Regions from separate parts of the Homo sapiens genome. Here regions 2, 3 and 4 are each linked to region 1. Evidence: fine-mapped QTL for protein levels in blood plasma. A gene starts in region 1. Each other region holds a variant in brackets. All regions are shown on one strand. Distances are between the middles of the regions.

Region 1 (5,150 bases):
TTAATGGATGTCCAGCACATGGTAGGGTGCTTACTGCACAGGGAGTATTCCGTAACTATTTGATTATTTTATCTATCCCACCTCTGTCTTTATTTATTTATTTATTTTGAGATGGAGTCTCGCCCTGTCGCCCAGGCTGGAGTGCAGTGGCGTGATCTTGGCTCACTGCAAGCTCCGCCTCCTGGCTTCATGCCATTCTCTTGCCTCAGCCTCCCCAGTAGCTGGGACTACAGGCGCCCACCACCACACCCAGCTATTTTTTTGTATTTTTAGTAGAGACGGGGCTTCACCATGTTAGCCAGGATGGTCTCGATCTCCTGACCTCGTGATCCGCCCGCTTCTGCCACCTAAAGTGCTGGGATTACAGGCATGAGCCACTGCGCCCGGCCTCTGTCTTTATTTTAAATGCCCTACTTCAGGCCCTTATTATTGCTCATAGAGACAACTACAAAAACCTTGTAACTGACCTTCTTGCTTCTAGCCTTGTCTCCCTTCTTCACCTTTCAACCTGTTAGCAATGCACACATACAGAATTCAACTTAAAAGGAAAAACGGAAAATCCAACCAGGCTATACTACCACTAAAAATCTTCATAGCTTCCCTCTTCTTTGAGGTATTAATAAAAGCCAAGCTCTTAGGCTTGGCACACGAAGCCCACTAAGATCTGCCCATCCTACCTGTATAGATCCTTCTTTCACAACAACCTCAAACTTCATTCCAACAAGATAGTACAGCCTGTGTGTTACTATTCATGCCACACGGTTTTTCCCCAACTGTACCTTGGCCCCCTGCCTCTCTAGATGACTCATTGACTCACCTGGCCCAGCCCAATCCATCTTGACCTTCCCTCCTGCCTACCAATTTTCCCCACCCCCTATAGGTGCCCCACTGATTGTTGACACATTGCATTGTGATTATCTGATTTAAGTGGAAGCTTCCTGAGAACTCTAGCACTAGCGTAGTATTAGTCTAGGTTCAGGGCCAACTGTTGCATTTAGATACTCCTCTGCCATCCTTGATACCTGGGTTCACATCGGTGTAACTGCCCATTAGCGTAACTGCCCAACAGGTTTCTCCTTGCCTGCTGCCCAGATAGAACAGACTTATCAAGACAGGAGAATTGCAATAGAGAAAGAGTTTAATTCACACAGAACCAGCTAAATGGGAAACCAGAGTTTTATTACTCAAATCAGTCTCCCCGGAAATTCAGAGACTGGAGTTAGTAAGGATAATTTGGCAGGCCAGGGAGTGGGGAGTGCTGATTGGTCAGGTAGGAGATGAAATCACAGGGGATCAAAGGGGGTTCTTGCAGTCTTCCGTTCCTAAGTGGGATCAAAGAACTGGTGGAACCAGATCACCAGCCTGGATGGTGTCAGCTGGTGCATCAGGATGCAGGGTCTGAAAAATACCTTGAGCACCAATTTAGGTTTTACAATAGTGATGTTATCCCTAGGAACAGTTGGGGAGGTTGGAATTGTGTGGCCTCTGGCTGCATGACTCCTAAACCATAATTTCTAATGTTGTGGCTAATTTGTTAGTCTTACTAGGGAAGTCTGCTCCCCAGGCAAGAAGGGGGTTTGTTTCCAGAAAGGGCTGTTATCCTCTTTGTTTCAAAATTAAACTAAGCTAAATTCCTCCCAAAGTTAGTTTGGCCTACAACCAGGAATTAACAAGGGCAGCTTGGAAGTTAGAAGCAAGATGGAGATGGTGAGGTCAGATCCCTTTCACTGTCATAACTTTCTCACTGTTACAATTTTTGCAAAGGCAGTTTCACAGGGCAGATGAAGATTTACTTAAATGTCTCATGATGGTGATGATGGTAGCTAATATTCATTGAGCAGTTACTATGTACCAGATATTGTTCTAAGTGCTTTAAATAAATTAGCTTGAAACTATCATTCTCAGCAAACTATCTCAAGAACAAAAAACCAAACACTGCATGTTCTCACTCATAGGTGGGAATTGAACAGTGAGAACACTTGGACACAGGAAGGGGAACATCACACACCGGGGCCTGTCATAGGGTCGGGGGAAGGGGGAGGGAAAGCATTAGGAGATATACCTAATGTAAATGACGAGTTAATGGGTGCAGCACACCAACATGGCACATGTATACATATGTAACAAATTTGCACGTTGTGCACATGTACCCTAGAACTTAAAGTATAATAATAATAAAAAAAAGTAAAATACAAAAAAAAAGAAATAAAAAAATAATTAAAAAATTAGCTCATTTGGCATTCACAGTAATCTTACAGGGTACCTACTATTAGTATCCTCATTTTAGCAATGAGGGTTAGGAAAAGTTAATTAAGTTTTCTAAGATTGCACAGTTACTAAAACTAGAATCTGCATGCAAACCCAGGCAGCCTGACTCTAGAGCCTGTAACCTTCAGCACCACCTCATGTCGCCCCAAGTTCATGTTTTTCAGGGGCCTTCTCCCATTTCTCAGTCATTTCCTCTCTCAAGAGAGGAGGAGAAGGAAGGGCCAAGAAGACAACATTGCTGGTGCCTTTTTTATTTATTCAGTTTACCTAAATTCTCTCATCATTACCAAATGACACATACTGTGAGCCAGGTTGAGACCCATCTTTTCTTAGTTTTATCGATATCTGTTTACTTAACCACAAAGATAACTTTTTTACTCCCAAATTTGAGTGATTAGTAAAGAGCTACATAATGTAACCAGTTTTGCTTTTCACAAGACATCTCTATTTCTCAGTGGGCTGAAAACCACACTTTTGCTTCCTCTTTACTTTGCAGTGAGAGCACAGCATTTGTCACTCAACCTCTGAATGTTAGTGACACTATTGGGACGAAAAAGGACTGTGCTGGCCCAAATGGCAGGCATCTCATATGTGGCATCTTTCTTTCTCCTTCTGAGTAAGTTTCATAATCCTTTATGTTTCTCTTGTCACAGGAGTTCATCAACTCAGGGTGCTGAGTGATGGAACAGGACAATTTGGTCTCTACAGGAACAACTATGCCATATATTTCTGATGTTAGCAATAATTTTTGACTTACTAATGACAGTTCTTGGCTTACCTAGACATCCTTGAGTTCCAGGGAGTCACAATGCTTGGTTGAGTCCCATGCACAAGATTCCATTGGTTTTAACATTTGTGTGTGTTGCCAGATCTGTCAGTTTTGCTTGGCCCTGGCTTTACTCATCTTCCTGGGCCGATCATCCCAAGAGACAGTAAAAAAGCTTTGTGTCCCAAACTGAGAGGAGACCTTAAGGTTTGCCTGATATTAAGGCTTGATGGGATAACTATGCCTTGCAGATATGACTGGATGGAAAGAAAGGTTATGAAAGTACTTAGTAGTTTTAGACTATGCTAAAAGAAGGTTCTAGATTTCACCTGCGAGTGGAAGTGGAAATTGACTACTGAGAGACTGAGAAATGAACAGGAAGATTCACTTGGCTCTACTGAGGGCCATGCAGAGGGGCTTGCCTGATCTAGGGGCATTTATCTATGTTTGAATAGGATGGAAGAAGAGAAAATTTGGAGGTAGAAGGGAGAGTCAGATGAGTTGAGCAGGTAATGGAATAGTTTCAAACCAGATAGCAGGTACTTTTTATGCTACAGTTTTCATTAACATCTGGTAAAGAGAATAGACTCCATCTCAGAATAATGTTTAAAATGCATAAAATAAAATGCATAGAATTACAGAGGAAATCAGTCACATTGAAATACAGGTATCAAAATATTTTAAATAAATTATAATGCAGTAATTTATTTGCTTCTTATTTATGCATTACATAACAAAATCTACAGGTAGGTCTTTTAACCACCAAACTTCAAAGTAATGATGAGTATAAATAACATTTCAATATATCTTAAGTAGTTGTAATGTGATATGAAGATATCTGTGGTTGTCTACATACATAACTGAAGAAAATACTAAATTTCCATTAGAGGCAAAAATGAAAATAAAGATGTAAGATTATTTTTCACCCTAGTTTATGGACCCTTTAATCCTACATGTGGACCCAGTTAAGAACTCTTGCTTTATAGCTGGGCATGGTGGCACATACCTGTGGCCCTAGCTACTTGGGAGGCTGAGGTGGGAGAATCGCTTGAACCTGGGAGGTGGAGGTTGCAGTGAGCCAAGATTGAGCCACTGCACTCCAGCCTGGGTGACAGAGTGAGATTCCATCTAAAAAAACAAACAAACAAACAAAACTCTTGCTTTAGAGAGACTGGATGGAGCCAGTGCAGGGACCCGAATGGCTGGGATGATTGGGGAACTAAACCAAGCTGCATTTGGTGTGACCAGGACTATGGCTGAAGAATTAAAAGAAAAGAATACAGCATTCAGCACAAAGAGGTTGCTTAATAAACATTGATTGAGTTGAATTGTGCTCATGTCTCTAGGTACATATGATAGTGTGAGGTTAAGAGTCAGACCTAGGGCCTGCAGGGGAAGTTACTGGGACCACTTGCTGGGTGACGGATGCCTGCCAGACTGGCTTGGCGGGTGTTGATGGATAGGTGCACTGGTGGGATCCTTTGGGGGCTGGTGTGTTTTTGTTGTTTGGTTAAGTTGTCTGAGTGTGATTCTCAAGTGTATGTGCTTTGTGTATTTGAATTCTATGTTTGCTATGTATATAGGAGGAAACTGGGTTTACATTGTGCAATAATTCATAGAATTGCAAATTCTGTCTCTTTTTTTGGTAAGCAGGCTAGAAGCCCTGGGGGAAGGAAAGTAGTAATCAAGGCTCAAAAAGGGGAAGCTGGAAGCTTTTCCTTAACCCATTTAAACAATTACCTAAACTGGGTTATACATTTACTTCTTCTAAATTCTGACTCATCTGAAGCACTAATTTTGTGTAGAAGCACAGTTTTTATGTGAAGAATACATAAATCAGGAAGTTACTGGAAAAAGCTTTAGAAGTCTGCTGTTTGTCCTTACAAATATAGAGGGGAATTGAAATAAATTATTTAAATAACGATCTATTGATCAATTACATTGGTTAGCAAATTTACACTTTGTCCCAATTTTTTTTTAGTAAATATAAGGACTGAACAATCCTGATAGAAAATGGTGCCATATGAGATTAATGTCATGGGTAAATGAGTTCTCGGATTTAGCAGTTAGCTTTGTCTGCTTGATCTATTTCCCCCACCCAAACTAGCTGCCCTAC
Region 2 (5,150 bases), 18 kb after region 1:
ACAGAAAATTTAAAAATTAGCCAGCATGTTGGCACGTGCCTGTAGTCCCAGCTACTGAGGCACGAGGCAGGAGAATTGCTTGAGCCAAGGAGTTTGAGGTTGCAGTGAGTTAAGATCACAGTGCTGTGTTCTAGCCTGCACAACAGAGCAAGACCCAGTCTTTAGAAATAAATAAATTGTTTAAGGGTGAATACATCCTCCGATATTCTTTCTGCTATCTTGTTTCCACTATTTAAGGTTTGGCAAATCTTTTGCCTGAGGGTGGTGCAAGAGGAAACAGCCCAATTTGACTTGTCACAAACTAGTCAAGTCCTAATTAATGAAATTTCACTGTATTTTAGAACATTTCTTATTTACCTAAAACAGTTTTGTTCTTCTATAATCTGTAACTCACAGCAAGAAGTGTGGTCATGTCTACCAAGAACAAGCAGCAAGTTGTGTGGGAAGGAGAGACACTCGCCTTTCTCTGTAAGGCTGGTGGAGCTGAAAGTCCCCTGTCTGTGAGCTGGTGGCACATCCCACGGGACCAGACACAGCCCGAGTTTGTGGCTGGCATGGGGCAGGATGGCATTGTGCAGCTGGGTGCCTCCTATGGGGTACCCAGTTACCATGGCAACACAAGGCTGGAGAAAATGGACTGGGCCACCTTCCAGCTGGAGATCACCTTCACTGCCATCACAGACAGTGGCACATATGAGTGCAGAGTATCTGAGAAGTCTCGGAACCAGGCCAGAGATCTGAGCTGGACTCAGAAGATTTCAGTTACTGTAAAGTCTCTGGGTAAGTGTCAAAGGAAGTCCTTTTCTGCACCTGTATATCACTCAATTCATTCTGCAGTGGAACTGGATTGCGTGTTATCCTGAATCCCCCAGTGATGGTATGTGTACCCTAGGACACAGAGCTAGTCTCTGGCTACCCTCTCTGTCAATTAATCTTTAAAGATTCTTCATTTTTGTAAAGATCATCTTTAGAGTGCAACTTGTAAATTGTTGTTCAAGGTTAAAAACAAAATCCTATGGATCAGCTTATAGACGAGTATAGCTGAGCCTCTTACCTTCTGGCTTTTGACAGCTGTGGCCCTGGGATTGCAGAGCCCATTGAAGCATGTGCAAAAGGGTTCTGATACTGAACCCACGCATGGGGGTAAGGGAAGGAGGCCAGACGACTAGGGTGGGGAGTGCTCCACCCACTCAGCAGCAGCTGTCTAAGTAGCAGATTGGAGAAACACTGCCTATTTGTTGTGGCTGCTGGGAACAGTCTTAGAAAAGGATCAACTTTGCAAAATTGAGGTCACAGTTCAGGACAGACTGTACTGGGAATCAATTTCTACTCTATAAAATAGGAAACTCCAAATGTACAAATGCATGGTCCTAGTCAAAGAGGTGGCAACTAGAAAAACTTGAAAGTGCTATATTTTAATCTGGTAAATATATTAGAAATTCTGTTTCATTTTTCTGTCTAGAGTCAAGTTTACAAGTTAGTCTGATGAGCCGTCAGCCGCAAGTGATGTTAACCAACACCTTTGACCTGTCCTGTGTCGTGAGGGCCGGTTACTCTGACCTCAAGGTGCCACTCACTGTGACGTGGCAGTTCCAGCCAGCTAGCTCTCACATCTTCCACCAGCTTATTCGAATCACCCACAATGGCACTATTGAATGGGGGAATTTCCTATCCCGGTTCCAAAAGAAGACGAAAGTGTCGCAGTCTTTATTTCGTTCACAACTCCTAGTCCATGATGCCACTGAGGAAGAGACAGGAGTGTATCAGTGTGAAGTAGAAGTTTATGACAGAAATTCCCTATACAACAACCGCCCCCCGAGGGCTTCTGCCATCTCTCACCCACTGAGGATAGCCGTCACTTTACCAGGTAAGTGTGACTTGAAATTAATCCCTGTTTTAAAAACAAACAAATAGCAATCCTCCCATTTTGGGTAAGTTATAACAATAAAACATAAAATACTTTCTCCCATATTTGTTCTATCTAAGTAAGCACCACATGATGAATGATACCCAGGTTAACATTGAGTTAGTATGCATGGGTTGGCCATACTGGTTGTTAAAACATTGAAATACCTTCCATGCTGGCTAATTGCTGCTCTCTACCCATTCCCCATTTTCCCCTAAGTTCCCACCACCCAGCAACTAAAGGGTACCACGTGGCACAGCAGGGGGCCTCTAGGACCTGGCTAGAGGGGAGAAGAAATGTTTTGGATTAGTCACTGTCCAGGCCTTACCAGTTAGTAAACATTTGCAGTGTCTCTGCTAGTGGTAGGGATAAGGTAAATTCCACTGGAATACATCCACCTACTTCTTTGTAAGGTGTTAATGTATAAGAGTCAGAGAATTTATTATTACAATCAAATATAATCCATCTCATCAACTGATAATAGAGCATAGGAGTTAAAAGTGAGATACTACCTAGGCAAAGTTCTGCTGTGTCATGTATCTTCTCTCTTATAGTTTGCATTCTCTTAGGAA[G/T]AGTGATGGAGAGACGTTGGAGTCATTTAGATCTGACAGTCACTGGATAGCAGAACAGCTTTGGATGAGACACTTAATCTGCTGAAGCCTTAGTTACCTGATCTGTAAATTGTTAATGTGCAATTTAAATATGGTGACATATATAACATGCCGAGTACCTGACACACCAAGATGACGCTCAAACGTGGTCACTGTCATTATTCTCTCTGCTGCTGTGCAACATTTTTGGTAATAGTAATGATCCCCTTGTTCATGAATTCATGCTTAATTAATTTGTCCTCTCTGTGGTATTTGCAATTGCTGCCCCAATCTGTCTTCTTGAAACTTCTTTTTTCCTTGGCACCATGACACAAGATTTTCATTTTCTCCTCCACTGATTTATTCTTTAAAGAAAACAGTTTCTCTGGATTCTATTCTTAGCTTTGTTCTCTTTTCATTCTATACGCTCTCCTGCAGTGGACTCGTCCCTACCCATGGATACAAGCTGTATGTTCACAACTCCCACATTCATTATCTTGACCAATTTCTCTTCTGATCTCCAGACTCGTATATCCAGCTGTCTCCAAGACATGCCTGCACTCATTATGTCAAAACATAAACCCACCATTATCATCCAAAGCTCTTTCTTCTGCATTGCCCCTTATGTCCCCACTCCTCACCAGTGACCCAAGTTGAAAACCTGAGTCATCACAACTCTTATGTTCACCTTGTATCTAAACTCCCACAGTGTGACATGCAAGGTCCTTTATCATCTGGTACATTTGTGTCTTTCCAGCATCATCTCCTTCAACTTTCCATCGTGAATTTGAGCTTCAGCCACACTGAATTACTGGCAGCTCCTCAATTGTCCATGTTCCCTCTCACTCTCAAAGTCTTTGATCTAGTTGCATCTTTTGTGTGGCAATCCTTAACCTCTTCTCCATCGGAATAATTCCTATAAACCCTTAAGACTCAGCTCAGAATTATCTCCTCCAGGAAGTCTCCCCTCACTCCTGTATTTGGGCTAGGAGACCCTGCTGTGTGCTCAGATAGGCACTTCTATATACCTCTGTCTTACATGAGGGACATGAGGAACAAAAATTTTACACTGAGGCCAGGTGTGGTGGCTCACACCTGTAATCCCACACTTTGGGAGGCCAAGGCGGGCAGATCACCTGAAGTCAGGAGTTTGAGACCAGCCTGGCCAACATAGTGAAACCCCGTCTCTACTGAAAATGCACAGATTAGCCAGGCATGGTGGCGTGCACCTGTAGTCCCAGCTACTCAGGAGGCTGAGGCACAAGGATCGCTTGAGCACAGGAAGTGGAGGTTGCAGTGAGCCAAGATCATGCCACTGCACTCCAGCCTGGGCGACAGAGCAAGACTCCATCTCAAACAAAACAAAACAACCAAAAATCTCACACTTGAGAAAGGTTTCTCAAGAGTTATTTCAGCTGCACATTCTAAATGTGGAAGACAGTGATCAGGGCAAATATCACTGTGCTGTGGTAGAATGGCTCTTTGTCTACAAATGGCACTTGGCACCATCTCTAAGCCTCTGTCCCTGCACTTGTCTCCCTCTAGAGTGTGAGCCACTGAGGGAAGATATCCACAGGGCCTGGAATTGTCTGGCACATAATATAGTGTGTGCTTCATAAATATTTGTTGAAGGAAGAGTAAAGGGACCTATGGGCAACATCAATAAGCAGTTAAAAAAGTAGAGTGGGTGATGTCAGCAAGATGCTAGAAGAAGATTTGGGAACAAGGATTGTCACTCATCTTTCTGACAAAGCAGAAAAGCTGCTGGGGTCAAAGATTAGTTGGCTCCATATCTATACAATGTTCCCACAGTTAAGTGACTGCAAAGACACACACAGTTTTAATCACTCATGTACAACTTCCTTTTGTTTACCCACGTTTGAAGGCAGATACAACTAGAGTTTGGAAATTGTGAATCCAGAAGTACTCTGCATAGTAAACACACAAACACAGCATTAATAGGGCCACTTTCTCCCAATCTGATACATGAAATATGACAGAAGAGATGCTTGTGCTTAAATACCGAAGCAGTATCATGTGGAAGAGAGATACTGGGCTTGTCTGTGTGACACTCCCTCTGCCACACCACCCCTACCAAGCACAGGTAGCACTAGGACTAGTGGATGGAAGTTATGAAGAGATAAAGTTCAACTTGATATCAGAAAGCATTCTGGAGGGGCAGAGCTGTCCAGAGATGAAATGGGCTGCCTTGTCAGCTAGTGATGCTGTTCAAAAGCTGTATGAGCAGTGAGTGGGGCTACTGTAGAGGGAGTTCACCCATATGATGGCGGGAGGATGCAGTGTCATACTTGACCTCTAATGTCTCTACTACCTTAACTTTCTATTTCATAGCAAAGTAACTGTTTCATTTTTTTAAATTTAGAGAGCAAGCTAAAAGTGAATTCAAGGAGTCAAGTCCAAGAGCTCTCCATCAACTCCAACACTGATATAGAATGTAGCATCTTGTCCCGGTCCAATGGAAACCTTCAGTTAGCCATTATTTGGTATTTTTCTCCTGTTTCCACTAATGCCTCTTGGCTAAAGATCCTGGAGATGGACCAAACCAATGTTATAAAAACTGGGGATGAGTTTCACACCCCACAGAGAAAACAAAAATTTCATACTGAGAAGGTTTCCCAAGACTTATTTCAGCT
Region 3 (5,150 bases), 11 kb after region 1:
AAAATTATCTGTTTCTTTTTCTCAATTATCTTTGCCATAAATATTTAGATGGTGTGTGGTTTTCCCAAGGCCTTGTCCGCAGCTCTCCATAGGTTGCTAGTAGCAACAGCATTCAACAAAGCTGTGAGAGTTCTCCCTGTGTTGTCTCTGCTTGCAGGCAGAACAGTAATTTGACAAGAAAGCTGGTACCATAGGTGATAAGTCATTAACTTAGAAATGATAATTCTCAAACTACCATTCTCTAGCATATTTACACATTGGGAAAGGGTGATAGTCCTTGCAATTGTCACTTTGTCCCTTTGTCTGGAATATCTATCACCCCCTTTTCAGCTTAACAAACTCCTACATATACTTCAGGACCCAGTTTAGATATTACCTCTTCTGTGGAACTCATCTTGACTGCTTGGGCAGAATTCCCACTTTTGTTTCCTTTAGATTGTTCATACCACTGCTCTCAGCATGTATCCAGTTACATGGTAATTGGCTATTTGTATGCCTCTTTCCCACCACATCCTCAGCTTCTACTCAGTGGCTAGCACCGAGTAGACGCTCAGTCACATTCATTGATTAAATCTAAGTGTTGCTTTCATATAAGCTTAGGCTGTGTGATTTCATTTTAGGAAAACAAGAATGGTAGGGTAGTAAGATGGTTACCAAAACTTTAGTAAAGATTGCATTTGGGCTCTAAATGATACATTTTAACAGCCATTATTACATTATTAGATTATTACACAGCCTTATAGAGGAGCAGGTTAAGGCCCAGGGAGGTGAAGTGACATGCCCAAGTCCACGTAGTAGGGATGGATTTAGGATCAGAATCTAAGGTTTCTCTGTCCCAGTGCTTTCTCCCTTTAAATACATGCTTTGTGTCTGAGTAGCTAAATTGGTTATAGCCTATGTTAATAAAGCAAAGTGAGGGTCAACACATTGATGAGGCATTTACTTTGCCCAGTTCCGTAGACTGTACCTAGATGCCAATGTTCCCAATGGCAATAGAGAAAGCATATGGATAGGAAAGCATATGGCAAGTGGAAAACCAACTCAAAGTCTGTGTGCTTTACATAGGGTAGCTCAGGGCGCCATCTAAGGAGGCCCACTGGACAAGCACTGGGCCAGTCACATTATTATCATTCCTTTGTTTCCAGTTATTCCAGATACCCTCTCTGCCACCATGAGTTCTCAGACTCTCGGTAAGGAGGAAGGTGAGCCATTAGCCCTCACCTGTGAGGCATCCAAAGCCACAGCCCAACATACTCACCTCTCTGTCACCTGGTACCTAACACAGGATGGAGGAGGAAGCCAAGCCACTGAGATTATTTCTCTCTCCAAAGATTTTATATTGGTCCCTGGGCCCTTGTATACAGAGCGGTTTGCAGCCAGTGACGTACAGCTCAACAAACTGGGACCCACTACATTCAGGCTGTCCATAGAGAGGCTCCAGTCCTCAGATCAGGGTCAGCTGTTCTGTGAGGCAACGGAATGGATTCAGGATCCAGATGAAACTTGGATGTTCATCACCAAAAAGCAGACCGATCAAACCACTCTGAGGATCCAGCCAGCAGGTAATTATCTTCCTACGAAATTCATTAATACACTAGTATTAGGTAGTGGGTATTTATGAGGTATGTTTTAATTTTTGTTCTAATCTTTTGTTGGCTCTAAAAAATTGGCTAGAAAGTTTGATTTAATTTTGTATTTTTGTCATCTGAGAAGCATAACTAAGAGGGAGCACATTCAGTTCTGGCTCTGCCCACGGATTCTTTATGGGATAAGGTCTACTGAGTGGCTAGATCGATTCCACAAGCCAGTCATGGAAGTAGTTTTGTTACCATTTTTGCCAGTCTCTGTTCACACATTATCTACATTATCTAATTTAGTCGTAACCACCACCCTATGAGGCAAGTAGTTGAGTCTCCATTTTAAAAATGAGGACTCTGAACTTCAGACATGCTAGATGCGCTGCCTAAGCCCACCCAGCTGGTGAGAGTGGGGCTGGCATTCAAAGGGAGGCCTGTCTCTCTCCAAAGCCCACTCAGCACAGACAGCTGGGCCTCAAAGTAGCTCCAGTTTCCAACATGAAGCCTTGTCTTCGTCAGTGCTGGGGTTTCCTTCCACCTGCCCCCTTTCCCAACTTGGAATGCAGTGACTTTGCTTTTTTATTATTTTTTTAATTTTTAAATTTTTTTAAGGACAGGATCTTGCTATGTTCCCCAGGCTGGCCTTGAACTCCGGGGCTCAAGCAATCCTCCTGCCTTGGCCTCCCAAAGGGCTGGGATTTCAGGCGTGAGCCACCGCACCCAGCCTGCTGTTACTTTTCATAATCTTTTGGCATTTTTGTCAAAGCAAGTATAAAGGCCTTGTCTGTGATTCCTGGTCTCTATAGGCTTTTGTCCAACAGGAAGTGGTTGCTAAACCATATACTGTATATGCATTGCTAAAAGCAATGA[T/C]CCAATAGTGGATCATTAAAGTTTTTTCTTTATTAAAAACAGTATTATTGTGTTCCACTAAAAATTGTCCTGTTGGCCTCAAGTATCCAAGTTATACTCATGAGTCCTATGGAGCGATATCACATGTGCTTTTTAACTTCAGAAAATTCTGCTGGATATTCTTAGCCAAAAAAGAGAGTAAGAAATCACAATTTACAGCAATTTAGTGTAAAATATTTAATATATATATTTAATTCAGTATACAATATTTTATTTTTTAATTTAAAAAGCATACATTACTATATGTGTCATACATTTGTGCATACATCTTGCTTACTAAGAGTGCATTCAGAAAACCATGTGTACTGTCCTTTCTGGGTGATTTAAGGAAGAGTCATGAGCGTTTTTTACTCTAAGGATTTTGTTTTTTTTGGGTTTACCTACCGCTATAGAATTGAACTCCCACATAAAATGTGATCCCTGTGACATCCTTACAGAGGGTGTCATCTCTCTCTGGTACTGAAAGGACAGAGGCTGTGGGCTCTCTAAATACCTGCCTTGCTTTTGTTTCCCAGTGAAAGATTTTCAAGTCAACATTACAGCTGACAGCTTGTTTGCTGAAGGGAAACCCTTAGAACTGGTTTGCCTGGTTGTAAGCAGTGGCCGTGACCCACAGCTTCAAGGCATTTGGTTCTTCAATGGGACTGAAATTGCTCACATTGATGCTGGTGGAGTCCTGGGCCTGAAGAATGACTACAAAGAGAGAGCAAGTCAAGGAGAGCTCCAGGTTTCAAAGTTAGGCCCCAAGGCTTTCTCTCTCAAGATCTTCTCTCTGGGCCCAGAGGATGAAGGCGCCTACAGATGTGTGGTAGCAGAGGTCATGAAAACACGCACAGGTTCCTGGCAGGTGCTTCAGAGAAAGCAGTCACCAGACAGCCACGTGCACCTGAGGAAGCCAGCAGGTACGTAAAGTCAAGGCCAGGCATGCATTGGGCTGCTTTCAGATGCCCCCTTGTCAGTGGAAGACCCCTTCGTGGATACAATGGGGATCTTCATGAAGAGCAGGTTTCAATCAGATCACATTGGAGGTGGAGTGGAGTGGAGTAAAGGAAGGCACCCAAACTAGCTGAAGACCCGAGTCCTATTCCTGAGTCATTAAGTAGTCTGTGACCATGAACACACCACTTTACGTCTCTAAGTCTCAGCTCCTTCATCTGTAAAATGATGGCACACAACTAGATGGTCTTTAAGTTCCTTCTTGCTATCTTAGAGTCTATTTATTTTTTGTTCTAATTTTTATGTATTAGATATTTCTTAAAGCAGAGAACATGTGTATTAATGAAGCCCTCTGCCTTTGTGTGTGTGTGTGTGTGTGTGTGTGTGTGTGTGTGTGTGTGTGATATGAATAGGTTAAGAGTAAAAAGCTACACTTTGTCCTCCTTCCTGAGGAATGAACACCCGTGTTATCCTACCTTGAGACCCTGCCGGCATTTTTCAGTTGCCTTCTGTTAGTCTCCTACTATGTTGACCTGGTGTGGGAAATAGTACTTAGTCATAATTCTGACTCACAGTAAGAAATGAAGAGGTAATTGATAGTGGGCAGACTCCATCCTCTGCATTTTGCTGTGATGTGGTGAGACGCCGGTCCAAATGGTTCTGAATGTCTGCATGCACGGAACTGAGGAAGCCACTCAGCTCACCTTTACTTTATGAAGGTTGGGTGACCTTAAACATGTTTGAATAATCAGTGCCTTTTGTGAAGAAAAACAGACATATCTGCAACTAATATAAGGATTCACTAGGCTGGGTTTAAATTCAAAGTCCAGAAAGATTAATTGCCCAAAAAAAATTTTTTTTAATGTTTTAAATTTTTAAAAACTGAGCTAAAAATAAAGGTGTCCTTGTTGCACTGGCTCATTGGAGACATCTCCAAAGATAGATAAATTTTCCTTTCATGTTCTCCAATATGCCATTTACTAGGAATGAAGATGCACCGATTTGGCCTTGAGTGGCAGGCCAGGAAGTGTGTTGGTGTTCGTTTTCACACTAAACATTTGGTCTGACTTTCTAGAATTAAGGAAAAACAATATAGGTGAGTTCACATATTTATGCAGAGATAAGTTTCTGCTTTATGCATCTCAGCCTTCTCTGGAACATATCTGCAGGCTTTTGTAAACCTGGTATGTGGGAATTTCACCTGAAGGGGAACTTCAGGGTACACAGCTGATAATCCTATCAATAGGGTCATCTTCTAAAACTAAAAATAGTTCTTTGTATAGGCTGGAGTCTACACTGGGCTTACTATGTAGACACAGAAAAAGTTATTAGCAAATTTATTAAGGATCCTGTTTAGCATTCTGTTTTGAAAGTCAAACGTTACTTGAAGTATTAGCAACATTTTATCATTTATGAATATTTTAATCACTCATTACCATTGTGAATGTGTAACTTGCACACATTTCATAAGTTTATTACTTCTTACCAAAAGGCAGTAATGGCCACAATGAACTAAGGAAACATCATTTAAAAAAAAAATCATTAGTTTAAACTAATCATCATGGTTATGTTAAAGTGGTGAATTTCCCCTCCAATTTTGAAACTTCAGTTATGAGTCTATTTTTAACTTGAAAAAAACTAAATTTGAAAGCAGATTTGCTCTTTTTAAAAACATATTTATGGACATTAACCCTCATTCTCTCTTTGTTACTTATGTATATGTATGCA
Region 4 (5,150 bases), 32 kb after region 1:
CAGCCCCCTCTTTATCTCACACCTCTTTTCTTCTGAAGTCAGTGTCTCTGAGGAAATATCAAAAAGGAGTGCTCCTTTTGCTGTGCTTGGCTGTGGGTGGAAGCACGTTCTAAACTAAGCCTCATGATGAAGTGCTCTCATTACATTTTTGGCTTTGTTTTGAAGACCTTGTACTTTGAGCATTGGGCACTTACTTAGATTGATCAAAATGCCAAACCTTAATGGTTTGAATGTCACTAATTCTAATCCAGATATGGGTGAGAGGCAGATGGTGGGAAATGGTGACTGTGGGATGCAGAGCAAACACTGGCCTCCCAGGAGAGGTGATTTAACAGCACAGGCACTAACAGTTGCTAGCTGTTGGCCACTTCAGCATGGTAAGGGGCACACCTTGCCATCCTTTGATGGCAGATTGCACTAAGCTGGGCAGCCTCTTCCCCACCAAGATAGCCAAGCCCTCTGGCTGTTCCTTCATGCTGAAAAGCAGAGTAGCAGATTTATTTCCACCTCCTGTGTAGTGGCCCCATCTCGCCATCATTACCCCACCATTCTAGCAACTGTAATACCTGGTGCTGTGGACTCTAACCTCACAATTCTCTGCCTCCCATGAGTAGAAAAGGAAGCCAGGGCCTCCTAAGTAATCATTTCAGTCTTTGCTGAATGTCACCCAGGTCTGAGGACAGGGGGACTAGAGATGTAAGGGAGAGAGAGCCTGTGGAGGAAGATGGCCAAGCCTGGGGTCCCTGTGGGAGAGATATCTGTAGGCTCCAGCCCTGTTCTCTGTCTGTTCTCTTGGGAGAAGGTTTCCTGTGATTTTCTTAGCTTTCTCAGTAGCATTCTAGCTAATATTTATTGCTTGCTGACTCCACAAATGCTTTAGGCACTTCGTTAGATGCTTTATTATACATTATCTCATCACAACTCTAGAAATTGTTATCCCTATTTGGTTGATGAGGAAACTAATGATTAAGAGAGGATAAGTAACTTATCCAATGTCAATAACAGCACATTGAAGATTGAGGATTTGAACTCAGCTCTCTTTGAAACACAGTAGGTGCTCATTCACTACTCTGCACAAATGCTCACAGCCAGTGCTTATAATACCTGGACTCCATGGCTCCATTCACTTGCATCATTGCAGTCTATGCTTCCTTCTAGCCACGGGCCTTCAAATGTACTCAGATAAGACCGGGGGAGAATAACTGTAGTCAAGCAGGGTCATTGGAAGAGGGGTCAGATAGGATGTGGAGCAGAGGGATGGTAAAGAATTCAAAACCTAACTTTATCATTGCTCACCATTTCAAAAAACAAAACTAAATTTAGGATGAAGGATACAAATGAGATCAGAGAAAATCCAGGCCATGAACCTCTGCTGCTCTTTGCCAGCCCCATTCAGAGCTGCCAGCCTAATGTTCAGTGATGATCTGTACTTTGTATAGCATGATGGCAGCCATCCCTGGGTTCCCATGTGTGGAATGTACTCATGCAATTGATTCATTCATCAGGCTCCATTGAGACCCTGTGAACAAAGAGTTGAGGAAGATAAAAAGACACACAAGACACAGGCCCTACCCTCAAGGAGCTCACAGTGCAGGAGGTGAGCGAATGTCTAGATTCTTTCTTGACTATCATCAAAGAGATGTTCTTTAACATGTAGGATTCGTCGGCAATGCCAAAAATGGAATTCTTGCAGCAGGAGGTTGGTCAAAATGACCTCTAAACCTCTTTCATCTCTAAGCATCCATAATCCCATGAATCCTGTAGCTTAACCTTTGAAGAAGAAATTGCTTATGTCATTACAATTTTCCAGTAAAAGCACAGCTACAGTTAGCATTGAATATTTCAGAACAGCCCTGATTTCAGATATCATGTCATAAATAAATGTAATTGGAAGACTACATTTAGTAATTGGTCTCTTTAAGCATGTGTCTTTCTGCTTCAATAGACTGTTTCCTGAAACCTGTGGTGTTTGCAGTCCTCTGGGCCTTTGCTTTCCTGGCCGTGTGGCCAGGAGCCACTTTGGGGCTGCTTGTGCGTGCTCTGCGTGTGTATCTGCTGATTGATAGTGCTTCCCGGCGGACTGCAGCTGCGGGATGATCATATGCTTCAGCATGCCTTTATATAGTATCTTTTGCCCATGTGGTTGCAGTCAATCCAATTTAATTCAGATCAGCAAAAGTTACTGAGCACATGTGCTAGGCACTGTAGGGGATATAGAAACAAATGGCACTATCAGACATACTCAAGTAACTATAGTGAACAAAGGAGACGAGTAAAAGGGAATTAAAGAGGCCTAAACAAAGGGCTGAGTGAGAACGGGATGGAAGAGAAGAACTGTGCCTGCAGCAAGGTAGGAAGAGCTGAGAGAGTAGGAAGTGTGATGGAGCTAGGCCAGAAGGACCTAGAGGCTCAGATGCATGGAGCATGTCAGGTGGTGGCCACAGCCAGAGCAACACAGGAAAGGAGTGGGAGGGAGGGGGCCGGGGAAGGAGGAGACCCACAGGGAGGGCCAGGCTTGGGTCAGCGGGGGTAGGGGCTTCTTATTGTGGGTGTGATTGTTTTATAAGGACAGTGCAGAGTGCAGGGCAGAGTGTGTGTGTATGTGTGTGTGAGAAAGAGTGTGTGCCTGTGTGTTGGAGGAGCAGCAGTGGGAATAACTCAGTTAAAAATTCAGGACTGGCAACACTGTTGAGAACGAGGGTTGAATTATAGATATCTTTTCTGAAGAAAGAAGATTAAAGGAGAGGTTTTCTTTTTTGTTTTGTTTTTCATTTTGGCTGTTAGTTTTAAGTAGGTCATTGGAACCTCCAGTGGTTGGAAATCGCAGGGCAAGGGGCTGTTGCATTAGAAGAGCCTGTTCCAGGAGCTCTCTTCCCCCAGTGCTCTGTCCTGTGCTCCTCATGATTTCAGGGGCCCACTGCTATTTGGCCCCATTATTTTTACATATACTTGCCTATAACAATAAATCCCAGGAGTGTTTGTAATTGACTAGTACAAATAAGTTGGAGATGAATTACTCTCTTGTTTCTCCCTTCGTTGCAGAGCCCACGCTTCCTTCCAGGATCTGCTCCTCGGCCCCTTT[A/T]CTCTATTTCCTGTTCATCTGTCCCTTCGTCCTGCTCCTCCTTCTGCTCATCTCCCTCCTCTGCTTATACTGGAAGGCCAGGAAGTTGTCAACACTGCGTTCCAACACACGGAAAGAAAAAGCTCTCTGGGTGGACTTGAAAGAGGCTGGAGGTGTGACCACAAATAGGAGGGAAGACGAGGAGGAAGATGAAGGCAACTGAATCCCAAGAGGCACCTGCAGCCAGGAAGGAAAGGTGGGGGCTTTTTAATTGGGCTAACCAGGGTGTGAATGAATCCTGGTTCTGTCCTCAACTATGTCTGCGGCCTTGGGCAAGTTACCTAGGAATCAGAGGGAGCATTCACTGAGTGCTTATTGGTTCTACGCACTGTTAGGTGTTCCTTTGTGTCTTACCTCATCCACCTCTCGCATCCCCCCTTGGAACAAGATAGCATCATTACCCTACATCTCTTGAAGGTTCAGGTCCCTGGGCTGCAAGGAGATAAGAGGCTCCCTCACACAGCCTCTGGAGGGCTAAATGAGATCCTACAGCAATGCCCTGGTGGGGCTTCTCTCTCCCTCTTATGTCACTTGTCACACCTGCTCTAGGTAATCATTTTCCTCCAGATGAGAGGTGTAGGAAAGGACCTGATGCCAGCAAGGAAAAAGGAATTGGTAACATGCTCTTTGTTTACCTAAAATCTGTCCCCACAACAAGAATGTAACTTCCTTCGAGGCAGAAATTCAATTTTCTTCTCCCAGCCCACCTACAAAGGCCCACTCAAGAGCAAGTTCTGTGTAAAGGTGCTTAACTAATACAGGTTCTTTGACAAAATGATAAAACATTTGTAACCTGAGTTTGGGGCTTTTTGTTTATTGTTTGATAAGACTTTTTATTAAGTAATTGCTGAGCAAAAACTTTGTAAAAACTCATGTAACAGTACTCCAGTCAGCCCCCCAAGGCCTCGTACCCCTGCTTCCCCCTACACCTCCATATCCCCACCAAAAGGTCCATCTGGCTCCTGGTGCTCAGCCAGTGCCTTATTTTCTTTGACCTGACAGCACTGGGTGGTAGGGAAGGTATTGTCTGGAGGAGCAGGGTTGACAGTGCCACCGTTCCCTCATACGCCTGCAGGGCTGGGGTTTGGGGCAGCAGTAGGTCAAGTCTGGTTCCTCAAGGTCTCCTATTCTCAGTAGCAAAAAGCAGCCGGTGGGGGTGGGGTGTAATGGCTTAAAGCTTTCAACAGCTGTCCCCACTGGGCCTACAGTCCCCTCATCTTTGTTTCAAAAGCCGCTCAGGCCCTGTTGTAGCCAGAATTGGAAATCAATCAGTGCCACCTAAAGACTTGAGAAAACACATCTATTTATTATCTATGTGACCAACCGAGTTGCTTTAACACTCGTTAATTTGCATTTCCAAGGAGAGCAATTTAGTTTTAATTATTTGATCAGGCACACACGTCCTCTCCAAACATAATTAGTTCCTTCCTAAGGGGATTATTGGTGGCTATGAGCACTCCTACTATGGACCTACCAGTTCCTTAAACTCATGTCCCTTCATAGCCTGATTTAAAATACTCCAAATCTTTCCTTAAACATGTCAGCACATTTGTTTCTTGTCATCCAGGTAAGGGAGCATATTTTTACAAACAACAAAGCTGAAATGAAGACTTTTTTTTTTTTTTTTTTGAGATGAAGTCTCGCTCTGTCGCCCGGGCTGGAGTGCAGTGGTGTGACCTGGGCTCACTGCAAGCTCCGCCTCCCGGGTTCACGCCATCCTCCTGCCTCAGCCTCCCAAGTAGCTGGGACTACAGGCACCCGCCACCATGCCTGGCTAATTTTTTTTTGTATTTTTAGTAGAGACGGGGTTTCACCGTGTTAGCCAGGATGGTCTCGATCTCCTGACTTCATGATCCACCCGCCTCGGCCTCCCAAAGTGCTGGGATTACAGGCGTGAGCCACCACGCCCGGCAGAAGACTCTTAGAAAGTGTGATGACCCCCTGCCCCTATTTTTTAGAAACCTGTATTTTAATTCAAAGGGAAAGAGAGCAGAAGTGAGCCTGGGCAGAGAATCTTGGATGGACTCTG

The links. PIP is the chance, under the fine-mapping model, that this variant and not a neighbour inherited with it causes the effect. The UK Biobank Pharma Proteomics Project read protein levels with antibody pairs (Olink). The fine-mapping took linkage between variants from a reference panel, not from the people measured, so its PIPs are less certain.
Region 2: its variant is fine-mapped to the plasma level of the CD101 protein (UK Biobank, PIP above 0.99).
Region 3: its variant is fine-mapped to the plasma level of the CD101 protein (UK Biobank, PIP above 0.99).
Region 4: its variant is fine-mapped to the plasma level of the CD101 protein (UK Biobank, PIP above 0.99). The variant lies in the coding sequence of CD101. If it changes the protein, the assay may bind it differently, which can mimic a change of level.

What each region holds. Positions count from the first base shown.
Region 1 is chr1:116,998,977-117,004,126 of GRCh38, forward strand. CD101 (CD101 molecule) reads left to right here and starts at 2,784. Exons shown (of 10, transcript NM_001256106.3): 1 at 2,784-2,884. The coding sequence starts at 2,842.
Region 2 is chr1:117,016,694-117,021,843 of GRCh38, forward strand. It overlaps CD101 (CD101 molecule), which reads left to right. Exons shown (of 10, transcript NM_001256106.3): 5 at 397-780; 6 at 1,463-1,867; 7 at 4,880-5,150. LOC124904386 (a long non-coding RNA gene) reads right to left here. Exons shown (of 2, transcript XR_007066499.1): 1 at 2,419-5,150; 2 at 1,400-1,741. Among named protein-coding and RNA genes, the nearest start is that of CD101, 18 kb to the left of the region's middle. RefSeq lists an enhancer at 939-2,138. The variant G/T (reference allele first, on the strand shown) is at 2,479.
Region 3 is chr1:117,010,405-117,015,554 of GRCh38, forward strand. It overlaps CD101 (CD101 molecule), which reads left to right. Exons shown (of 10, transcript NM_001256106.3): 3 at 1,146-1,562; 4 at 3,002-3,388. Among named protein-coding and RNA genes, the nearest start is that of CD101, 11 kb to the left of the region's middle. The variant T/C (reference allele first, on the strand shown) is at 2,448.
Region 4 is chr1:117,030,818-117,035,967 of GRCh38, forward strand. CD101 (CD101 molecule) reads left to right here. Exons shown (of 10, transcript NM_001256106.3): 9 at 3,043-3,317. The coding sequence ends at 3,284. It overlaps CD101-AS1 (CD101 antisense RNA 1), which reads right to left. Exons shown (of 4, transcript NR_110786.1): 3 at 1,297-1,519. Among named protein-coding and RNA genes, the nearest start is that of CD101-AS1, 26 kb to the right of the region's middle. The variant A/T (reference allele first, on the strand shown) is at 3,083.